Linked DNA regions of Homo sapiens: region 2 is linked to region 1. The links come from fine-mapping of genetic effects on gene expression. A gene starts in region 1. The other region holds a variant in brackets. All regions are shown on one strand. Distances are from middle to middle.

What was found. PIP is the estimated chance that this variant, and not a neighbour inherited with it, causes the effect.
Region 2: its variant is fine-mapped to the expression of PLIN4 in whole blood (TOPMed, PIP above 0.99).

The regions. Positions count from the first base shown.
Region 1 is chr19:4,516,389-4,521,753 of GRCh38, forward strand. It overlaps PLIN4 (perilipin 4), which reads right to left and starts at 2,098. Exons shown (of 8, transcript NM_001367868.2): 1 at 1,997-2,098; 2 at 1,834-1,901; 3 at 1,166-1,310; 4 at 229-290. The coding sequence starts at 1,884.
Region 2 is chr19:4,537,115-4,542,479 of GRCh38, forward strand. It overlaps LRG1 (leucine rich alpha-2-glycoprotein 1), which reads right to left and starts at 2,922. Exons shown (of 2, transcript NM_052972.3): 1 at 2,868-2,922; 2 at 1-1,837. The coding sequence starts at 2,899. The coding sequence ends at 826. The variant G/A (reference allele first, on the strand shown) is at 2,309.

The DNA.
Region 1 (5,365 bases):
GCACTGCACCCATTTCACAGATGTGGAAATAGAGGCTCAGAGGGGAAGCTCCGCCTGGGATCCCCAGGCTGTCTGCCTTCCCTCAGGCCCACAGCAGCCCCCCAGATAGCAGGAACTGAAATGTCCCAGGAGGGAGCAGCCCCCCAGATAGCAGGAACTGAAATGTCGCAGGAGGGGGCACCCCCAGGGCTCCTGCCACATCAGACCCTGCCCTGCACATCCTCTCACCTTTTCCGAAGGTTGCAGCTCCTTCTCCGTCCATGGGGCCGTCTGCTCTGGGTGGGCAGCCACTGTGGGGACAGGGGCCGGTCAGGGAGAGTGAGGGATGCAGTTAGAACCATCTACCCGGCTGCCCATTGCACAATAGCCAGGCACAGCCTAAAAGGTCAGGAATGTTTCAGCTACCCCGCCAGGGACAGCAGGAGGTGACATCCACGGCTACCAGCCAGACCTGGTCACCCCCCAACCCCGCTGGGGGCTCCCCCCAAGCCCAGGGCCGCTGTTCCCTGAAGTAGGGCTCTGTGGAACTTCCTCTGCTGGGTGGACACCCACCCTGAGTCCCGGGGTTCATATAGCCTGGCATGGGGGAACAGCCCCTTGCCCAGCCCGCCCCGCCCCCACCGCAGCTGCCTGCTGCCTATTGCCAGGCCAAGGCATGTGGAGCAGAAGTCAGCTGCCTGGGGCTCTGGGCCCAGAGGGAGGCCCAGCTCAGGCGGCTGCCCCAACCCTGGGTTCCCTGTCACCGTCCCTGATCGCCCAAGCTGAGCCACAGGAGGCTGGGGAGCCCCTGGGCTGTGTGACCCCAGGGGAGCTGTTGCTCCTCCCTGGGAGTCTGGATCTCACTCTGATGAGCTCAGATGGGCAGAGCACCCAGCCTGGGCCATGGTGCATCAGAAACGGAGTGCAGGGTGGGGGAACGGCCGAGGGACTGAGTGGGGGGGCATTGCAGGGAGACAGGCTGGGTTGAAAGCCACCTTCGGCCACTCACCCCCCATATTTATGCCTCAGTTTCCCCATCCACCACAAGATGTCCTAGTGTCTGATGAGAGCACACAGACAAATATGGAGGACTCCCCAAATGGCTGGAAGTCCCTGCCCGGGGAGCTCCTTCTCCCAGGTCCATGTGTAGAGTCCCCCCACGCCCCCAGCTGGGCCAGCCACTCACCCTGAGCCTGTGGTTGGGCAGCCTCGGCAGCAGGCGCTCCTGTGGGGTCAGCGGCCGGCCGGGCTCTCGCCGAGCTATGTGCGTTGGCCACCAGGTTCCGGGCAGAGCTGAAGCCAGGCAGGGACCCAAAGAAGCTGCCCAGGGTCTGCATGGGGGCGGGGGGTGTGCAGGATGAGCAGGCCAAGCCTCGGCAGGAACGGGTCAGAGGAAGCATCGATTGATCAGCCCAATGCCGCCCCGGCCCCTTGCTCCTGGGTGACCTCAGGAAAGTGTTTCAGCCACTCAGCCTCAATTTCCACACCTGGGCAATGGGCAGACTCAGCCTGCCTCCCATGCACAGAGGAAAAGATCGTCTACCCGATCTCCAAAGACCTTTTCCTTCCAGGATCCCCACTGCACAGATGGGGAAACTGAGGCTCAGAGAGGGGCGGAGCTGAGGCCGGCCCAAGGTCACTTGCTGGGGAAGGTGTCGAGGTCTGCGTGGGTCCCCCGCCTCCAGCTTGGGTCAGAAAGGAAGGGATTGGCATCATGGCTCCCAGACCGCCCCCACCAGCCCACCAGGGAAGCACCTCTCCAGATTCGAGACCCCAGGACTGTGGAGGTCACCTTCCCCGGCTCTGGGGCATCTCCAGGCCCCAGCAAGAATCTGCCCCATTTCCCCTCTTTACCTTGCCCTTCGGTTTGGGGGGATCCCGTCTCCCTTCGTCTGGAGCAGACATAGTGAGAACGTGAGAAGCTGGAAGGGGGCAGAGAAGGTGCGTGAATGGGGGTTCCCTAGCCTCCCATCCCACACCCACTCCCCACTGAAAGCCTGAGCAGCCCGACACCCACCTGCAGGCCTGGCCTCACCCTGGTGTCACCGAAGCAGACGCGGCCCCGCTCACCTGGACTGCGCGGGGTCCCCTGGAGGACGGACCGGCCCGGCTGGCAGCTGGCTCTACCCTCAGCTCCCTGGCCTTATAGGGTCCGGGGCAGGCGCAGGCCCAGCCAGCAGCGGCAGGCGGCCAATGGGCCCGGGGGAGGTGGCCTGGACGGTCACATGGCTACCTGCCCAGCCCAGCATGGGCCCAGGCCCAGCACCTTTCCCCTGTTTCCTGCCCACAGCTTGCATCAGGCTGAGTGGCTCACAGGCCAGATGGGCTCCCCTCCCGGGCCCCTGAGCCTCCAGTTCCATCCACGAGGTGGGTGTAGTTCAAATCTCTGCTGCACCAGGATGCCTTGGCCAGTTACCATCTTTTTGCTTCAGGTTTCTCTCTCGTACTCCGCACCACGTCCCGTAACATCCAGCTTCTTCTCTGCTCTCATCTCCCCCAGCTTCCTCCTTCGCTTGCTTCATCCCAGCCACACAGGCCTCCTCGCTATGCCTCCAGCGCACCTGGCACGGTCCTGCCTTAGGGCCTCTGCACGGGCTGTGCCCTCTGCCTGGAACACCTTCCCTGCAGGTTCCCACAGGGCACCCTCTTCCGCCCACAGAACAGTGCCTGGCATACATTTGGCGCTTAATACACGTTTGGCTCAATGGAGCAACACAGAGAGTGGTTGTGAGCCTCTGTGAGATGAGGTCATGCACTGAACAAATGCTGCCTTCGCGTTACCCAGGCAGAAGCGGGGTCTCGGGGTCTCGGCAAGGAGCAGGGGGTGTCCTCAGTGTGGAGGGGAGCCCATCACTCTCCGGAAGGGACTTGGGCCAAAACGCAGACCAAGATGGAGCACCAGCCAAGCTGGGGGCACCCTAGGAGTGGAAACCCAGCCTGGGGGGCTTGGGCCAACCCAGGGAGGCTCCCTGGAGGAGGCGTCCTGTTCCAGAAGTGGTGAGGATGGGATTCAAACCCAGACCCTCCTGTTCCAGGAAGTGGTGAGGACGGGATTCAAACCCAGACCCAGGACCTTCGTGCTGAGCCCAGCCTATGTGCTGGGCTGTCTGTGGGTGGGTGGGCAGAGGAATGGCCGTAACGCCCACCCTGGGCTGTGTCCCCCTCCTACCTGCCCCTGAGACAGGGTTCCTAGCCCTGTGTTATTGGGGGTGAGAGGGCAGACCCCATGGGTGGCTCTGGGCACTGGGCTGGGAGGAGGGAGGGTACAGCCACAGGATCTGATGATTCCCAGGCCGTCTGTCTCCTTGGAGCCGACACTGTGTTTGCCAAACAGTGGGGGAACAGAAGGGGGGGTGTCCCCCAACCTCTTCTACCAGCCAGTGCTTCCCAAGGGTGGCTGGGAGAGCTCTGGGTGCCCCTCCCCTTCCCAAAGGGCAGCCACAGCCCAGTGTGTGGAGAGAAAAAATTAAAAAGTGATCATAAACATCCCAGCCAGGATCTACCCCTCCTCTGCCCAGCACCCTCCATGGCTCCCACCTTCTCCGGGGTGGGAGCCCAGGGTCAAAGCCCAAGTCCCCTTCCTGCAGCCCGGTAGGCCCTGCATAACCTGCCTCGTCTGCTCCCCACCTTCCTCTCCTTCTTCTCTTCACTCTGCTCCAGCCACACGGGCCTTTTCACTGTTCCCATAACATGCCAGGACAGAGTCCCTCAAAGACACACGTGACTGTGCCTGCTTAGCCCCGCACACCCTTCCTCAGGGCTTTCGTGTGGGTTGTTGCTTTTGCCTCCAGCACCCTTTCCCACATCCCTCACCTCCTTCCAGGTCTTTCCTCAAATATCACTTCCTCAAAGAGGCATTCCTGGATCTCCTCTCCCTTTAAAAAATATATACCTCAGGCCAGGTGCCATGGCTCACCCTGTAACCCCAGCATTTAGGGAGACCGAGGCAGGAGGATTGGCTTGAGCACAGGAGTTTGAGACCAGCCTGGGCGACAGAGCGCCACCCCGCCTCAAAAGAACAAAAGAAAAAAAAAAAAAAATAAATAAAAAAAATATATTTTATATATATATATTTCTGTTGAGGCGGGGTCGCGCTCTGTCGCCCAGGCTGGAGTACAGTGGTGCGATCTCGGCTCACTGCAAGCTCTGCCTCCCGGGTTCATGCCATTCTCCTGCCTCAGCCTCCCGAGTAGCTGGGACTACAGGCACTCGCCACCACACCCAGCTAATTTTTTGTATTTTTAGTAGAGACAGGGTTTCACTGTGCTAGGCAGGATGGTCTCGATCTCCTGACCTCGTGATCCACCTGCCTCGGCCTCCCAAAGCGCTGGGGTTACAGGCATGAGCCACTGTGCCCGGCTGCCCAAAATATATCTTTAAATAAAAATTAAATGAATTAATGGGCCAGGCGCGGTGACTCATGCCTGTAATCCCAGCATCTTGGGAGGCCGAGGCAGGTGGATCACCTGAGGTCAGGGTTCGAGACCAGCCTGGCCAACATGGCAAAACCCTATCTCTACTAAAAATACAAAAATCAGCTGTGTGTGGTGGCGCACGCCTGTAATCCCAGCTACTCGGGAGGCTGAGGCAGGAGAATCACTTGAACCTGGGAGGTGGAGGTTGCAGTGAGCCAAGATCGCGCCACTGCACTCCAGCCTGGGTGACAGAGTGAGACTCCTTCCCCACCCCCCCAAAGAAAAGAAAAGAAAAGAAAAATCCCAGGGCTTAGCTCAACCCATTCTCTTTTCCTCACCTCTGCTGCAGTGAAACTGATTTCCCTACTGCTGTGCCTTTCCCTAAGCTGTTCCCTCTGCCAAAATGCCTACCCCTATGTGCTGTTCTGATCATCCTCAACAGGCCTGGCCCTGCCAGGAGCCCCCAGCCTCATGTGGGAAGAGAGAGCAAGGCTGCCTGTGGCTATAAAGTCAAGGTGGAAAGGGCAAGAAACCTTGAGAAGGTGGCCTGTGGAGGACCGGAGGAGGGAAGTATCCGGCTGGGATGGAGTCCTGGAAGCCTTCCTGGAGGAGGAGGCATTGAGGCTGGGCCTTGAGGATGTATGAGATGTGTCCGAGGGACGGATGGGGGGTGGGAAGAGTATTCCAAGGTGGCCGCACAGCCTCAGCAAAGGCCCGGAGGTGGGAATGTGCCCACTTCAATGGTAAGAGAGCAAAGTATCCAGGTCAGGCTGGAGGAGGAAGCTGGAAGGTGAAGAGTTTGGTCTGTGGGCAGTGGGGACCTGTGGGAGATTCCAGAACAGGAGCAGGGAGGTAGATTTGGCTGGTGGAAGTGGTCGGAGATCCCAGAGCTGCCCTCTGGACTATGTCCCAGGGAAGTCAGGGGCCACCCTGACCTCACCATACCAAGCTGTGGTTTCCCAACACCCCGC
Region 2 (5,365 bases), 21 kb after region 1:
CCCAGGGCCTGGGCCATGCCTCTTTTCCTCCTTCACCCTGGAGTCCTGGGAAGTTGATTTGAGAAGATGCTAGGAACACAATGAAAGCCAATTCATCCGATCCAGTTTTCAAGGGTTATTTATTAAACCCCTTGGTTCTGACCCCAAGCTAAGTGGGACTCAGCATCAGACCCTGCACTCAGAGAGCCCCCTGACTTGGGGAAGACAGAGTCAGAGAAAGGCAGCCCCAGTGTGGCCAGGGCTCAGCTGGAAGGAAGGACAAGGGGCTGGGAGAACCCAGAGTTCAAGAGATCTGGGAAACAGGGAACGGCATTCCAGACGGAGGGCACACCTTGGGCATGGGTAAGGAAAGCCCATCGTGTGTTCTAGGAAGCATGGATGGATGAAACGGGGTCCCAGCCGCTATGGACAGCCCCGAGTTTCACCTGTAAAAGGCAGGATTATTTGTTTTTAATTTTAATTTTAATTTTTTTGAGACAGTCTTGCTCTGTCGCCCAGGCTAGAGTGCAGTGGCACGATCTTGGCTCACCGCAAGCTCCGCCTCCCAAGTTCACGCCATTCTCCTGCCTCAGCCTCCCGAGTTGCTGGGACTACAGGTGCCCACCACCACGCCTGGCTAATTTTTTATATTTTTAGTAGAGACAGGGTTTCACCATGTTAGCCAAGATGGTCTCGATCTCCTGACCTCGTGATCCGCCCACCTGGGCCTCCCAAAGTGCTGGGATTACAGGCGTGAGCCCCCGCACCCGGCCAAAGGCAGGATTATTTGTTAAGCGGGTTGCAGTGTTCTACCAGACCCCCCACCCTCAACCCAAGCCCCTGGTCTCACTGGGACTTGGCCACTGCCAGGAGCGTCTGGCCCTTCACGGCTTCAGGCCCAGCACAGCGCGTGTCATTCTGGGAAAACATCTTGTCTTTTTGGGCCTGAAGCCAACGATAGAGGTCGCTCAGGTTCTGGTCACAGATCCAGGGGTTGCCGGAGATGTCGAAGCCATCCCGCATGTCCCAGTTTGGCTGCCCTAGGGATGCCCAGAGCCCCTCGGGCACGCTGGCCAGTGAGTTATTGGAGAGGTCCAGCATGTCCAGCTGCCGCAGGCCCTGGAAGGCACCGGCTGCCACCCTGGCCAGCTTGTTGCCGTTCAGGAAGAGGTAGCGCAGGTCCGGCTGCGGCAAGAGGAGATCTTTTCCCAGTACTTGCAATTTGTTGCCTTCTAGATGTAGCCGTTCTAATTGCAGCGGACCCCTCAGGAGGTCAGGTGGCAAGGTCTCCAACTGGTTCTCCCCAAGGTCAAGGGTGCGCAGGAGGGTGAAGTTGGCCAGCAGCCCGGGGGGCAGTTTCCGGAGGCGGTTCCCAGACAGGTCCAGATGCCCCAGAGCTTTCAGGCCGTGTAGCCACGAGACCTCCAGGACCTCCAGCTGGTTTTCTTTCAATACCAGGGTGTCCAGGGTGGCTGAGGCCTGGAAGAGGCCCGGGGGCAGCCCGGTCAGGGCGTTTCGGGTTAGATCCAGCACCCTCAGCTGCGGCACTGGCCGCAGGAATTCGGGCGAGAGGCTTTCCAGCCCATTGCTGGAGAGGTGCAATTCTTGGAGCTTAGAGGCGCCCTGGAGGAGGTTGGCTGGCAGGTGGGTCAGGTTGAAGAATTCCACGGCCAGGTGCACGGTGTCGGCTGGCAGGTAGCCGGGGATTTCGGCAGGTGGTTGACAGGAGATGGAGCTGCCATGGTCTGAGCGGAACACCTGGCAGTCTTTGGGGCTCAGGGTGACCCCCCAGGCTGAGGCTGCCAACAGCAGCAGCAGGAACAGAGTTCTAGAAACATGGGGTTGAATGCCCCCTGGGCTGCAGGCAGTAACAGAAGATGCTTACTAAACCACAGTGAAAATACACTCAGCTAGGTGAAAATACACCAGCAAATCCGCCCACTTCTTCCCATCTCTGCGGCTACCAGCCTGGACTATGCTACCTCATCTCTCACCTGTACTAGGGCAGTTGCTTCCTCCTCCTCTTCCAGCTTCTACCCTCACCCCCGACAGCTGCCAGAAGTGGCCCCTGTTCCAGGGAGAATTATAATTCTAGGAAAGTTGAGTTTCTGAGTGTAACTCCCGCATAATATGAATACACTTCCCCATCACCAGCCTAGCCCCCATGAGCTGTTAATTATTCACAGTCCAACTTGCTAGTTTCTTCTGATCTGGCTTATTTTCTGGGTCAGTCCTTGTCTCCCTGGCTCTGTGTTTTGATGTGAACTCCTATTCATCCTTCAAAGCCCCAGCTCCAATGCCCTCTTTTCCATGAAGACTTCTCTGCTCT[G/A]GGATCCTGGTCTTTTTGTCCACTCTTGACCAATTGGGTGCTTGGAGGAAGACAGACGTTCAGGTTCATGTTTTTGAGACAGAGTCTTGCTCAGTTGCCCAGGCTGGAGGGAACTGGCATGATCACAGCTCACTGCAGCCTCTGAACATGAAAAGTGTGTCCTGCTTTGGCCAGGTCTGAGGGTGGGCATTTGGCCTTGGGAAGCGGTGGTTTACACTTAGCACCACAACCCTTGGAAGCCTGGGGCTTCCCCTCCTCCTCCAGGGCTTCCCTGGCCCGGCAGCCATCAGACATGATCTCGACAGCCTTGGTCACTGTGGCCCCAGGCCTCTAACAAGAAGCCTCCCCCGGCTCCCTGCTGCCCATGCCCACCTGGGCTTCTGTAGGGGTGTGTGTGTGTGTGCACGCGCCAGTCTTTCTGTCACAGATAAGGTTGATCTGTGCCAGCCACCAGGCCTGTATCTGCTCCCTGTGACTTCTATGGGTTAGCTGGAATGTCCTGTATCTCCGCATGGTCTGGCGTTCAAACCTGCCTAGGACAGGTAGTGTGGGGACCTACCTTTTTGGTCGCTGTCTGCTCCAAGAGGACATGGTAGCTCTGCTCTTTTGCTTCTGGGTTGTCCTGGCCTGCGGAGGTGGCCTTATACCTGCCTGGACTGGGGGCAGGGGAACCAACCCTGGGGAAGTCCCCACCCCCGTCCAGTTCCTGATAGGGGCTGAGCCTAAGCCAGGCAGGGGAAGGGGAGGGGTCAGGATTACAAAATTGCTTCCTGGAAATTGTTTCCTGTTCAACCCCTTTTTGACCCTGCTTCTAGAACACAGGTTTTTCTTTCCTTGCTTCCTGATTTTTGGGGGGCATCCAAGAGTCTCTCTAGTTGCATCCTCACTTCCCCCAACCCGGAGTTCAAGGGTCAAGGTTTGCAAGGCACTATTCCTGGAGACAGGGACAGCTCTCTGAGCAAGAGGAGGGATTTACCATAAACTTGAGCAACCCAGAAGCTCACTGAAAAGAACAAAAAAACTCGTCTTGATTTCATGGTATGTTGATATTGCTTTTTTTAAAAGAAGTCATTTTAAAAATACAGTCCAATAGTGAGTAATGCCAAACGTCTCTACGGTCCTTAGACAGTGGCTTGGGAGGAACCAAACCTGGTTCTGAATTCCAGCTCTGTCATGAACACCTTTGCTTTGTGACCTTTGGCAAGTGACTTAACTTTTCTTGGCCTCAGTTTCCCCATCTATGAAGCTGAACTCAAATCTCCAAGGGCTCCTTCTGCCCTTTTTTCTCTTCATCTGAATCTGACATCCATGCTATTGTTTCCATTCTTCCTCATTTCCTATTAAATGCGTTTGGAGGCTACAAATTTCCCTTTGAGAACAGCTTTGGCTGCATCTCATGGACTTGGCTGCAGAGTGCTTGCATTCTTGTTGAGTTCTAAATATTTAGGTATGATGGTGTCACCTTTATCTGCAGCTATGACTATTTTTTTTTTCTTTTTTTTTTTGAGACAGAGTCTTGCACTGTTGCCTAGGCTGGAGTGCAGTGGCGTGATCTCCACTCACTGCAAGCTCCGCCTCCCGGGTTCACGCCATTCTCCCACCTCAGCCTCCCGAGTAGCTGGGACTACAGGCATGCACCAGCGTGCCTGGTTAATTTTTATATTTTTAATAGAGACAGGATTTTGCCATGTGGCCCAGGCTGGTCTTGAACTCCTGAGCTCATGTGATCCACTGGCCTCGGCCTCCTAAACTGCTAAAATTACAGGTGTGAGCCACCATGCCCCGTCATTTTTTTTTTTTTTTGAGACAGCATTTTGCTCTGTTACCCAGCTTGGAGCAGTGTGGTGCAATCATAGCTAACTGTAGCTTTGACCATGGGTCCAAGGCCTCCCAAGTAGCTGGGACTACGGGCACGTGCCACCATGCCTGGCTAATTTTTTTTGAGATGGAGTCTCCCTCTGCCACCCATGCTGGAGTGCAGTGATGCAATTTCGGCTCACTGCAAGCTCCACCTCCTGGGTTCAAACGATTCTCCTGCCTCAGCCTCCCGAGTAGCTGGGAATACAGGCACATGCTACCATGCCTGGCTAATTTAAAAAATTCTTTTGTATGTTACCTAGGCTGGTCTCAAACTCCTGGGCTCAAGGAATCTTCTCAGTCTCTCAAAGTGCTGGGGTTATAGACGTGAGCCACTGCACTCCGTCAGTCTTGTGCCCTGCCCAGTCTCCGGAGCCCAGCCGTTAGTTGGTCTTAATCAACATGGACTGAGAGGAAGGAAGGCTTGTGAAATGTAGTGACACAGTAACAAAACGATCCATTAAAATGAAATGAGATCACATCCCTGCTTAAAACTCTCTGATGGCTTCTTGTCCCACTTAAAACAAAATTCATAAGGCTGGCCAGGCGCAGTGGCTCACGCCTGTAATCCCAGCATTTTGGGAGGCCGAGGCAAGCGGATCACCTGAGTTCAGGAGTTCGAGACCAGCCTGACCAATATGATGAAACCCCGTCTGTACTAAAAATACAAAAATTAGCGGGGCGTGGTGGCGGGTGCCTGTAGTCCCAGCTACTGGAGAGGCTGAGACAGGAGAATTGCTTGCACCCAGGAGGCATAGGTTGCAGTGAGCCGAGATCGCGCCACTATACTCCAGCCTGGGTGACAAAGTGAGACTCTGTCTCAAAAAAAGAAAAAGAAAAAGAAAAAGAAACTGGCTCCTATGCAGATGAAGATGGGGACCCCGAAGTCTCCATGTTTCCACACTCAGCTCCCCAGATTTGTTTTGACCCAGCCTTTTTTTTTTTTTTTTTTTTGAGACAGCGTCTCGCTCTGTCACCCAGGCTGTAGTGCAGTGGTGTGATCTCAGCTCACTGCAACCTCTGACTCTCAGATTCAAGCTATTCTTCTGCCTCAGTCGGCCGAGTAGCTGGAATTACAGGAACCCGCCACCAAGCCTGGCTGATTTTTTGTATTTTTAGTAGAGACGGGGTTTTGCCATGTTGGCCAGGCTAGTCTCGAACTCTTGACCTCAAGTGATCTGCACACCTCGGCCTCCCAAA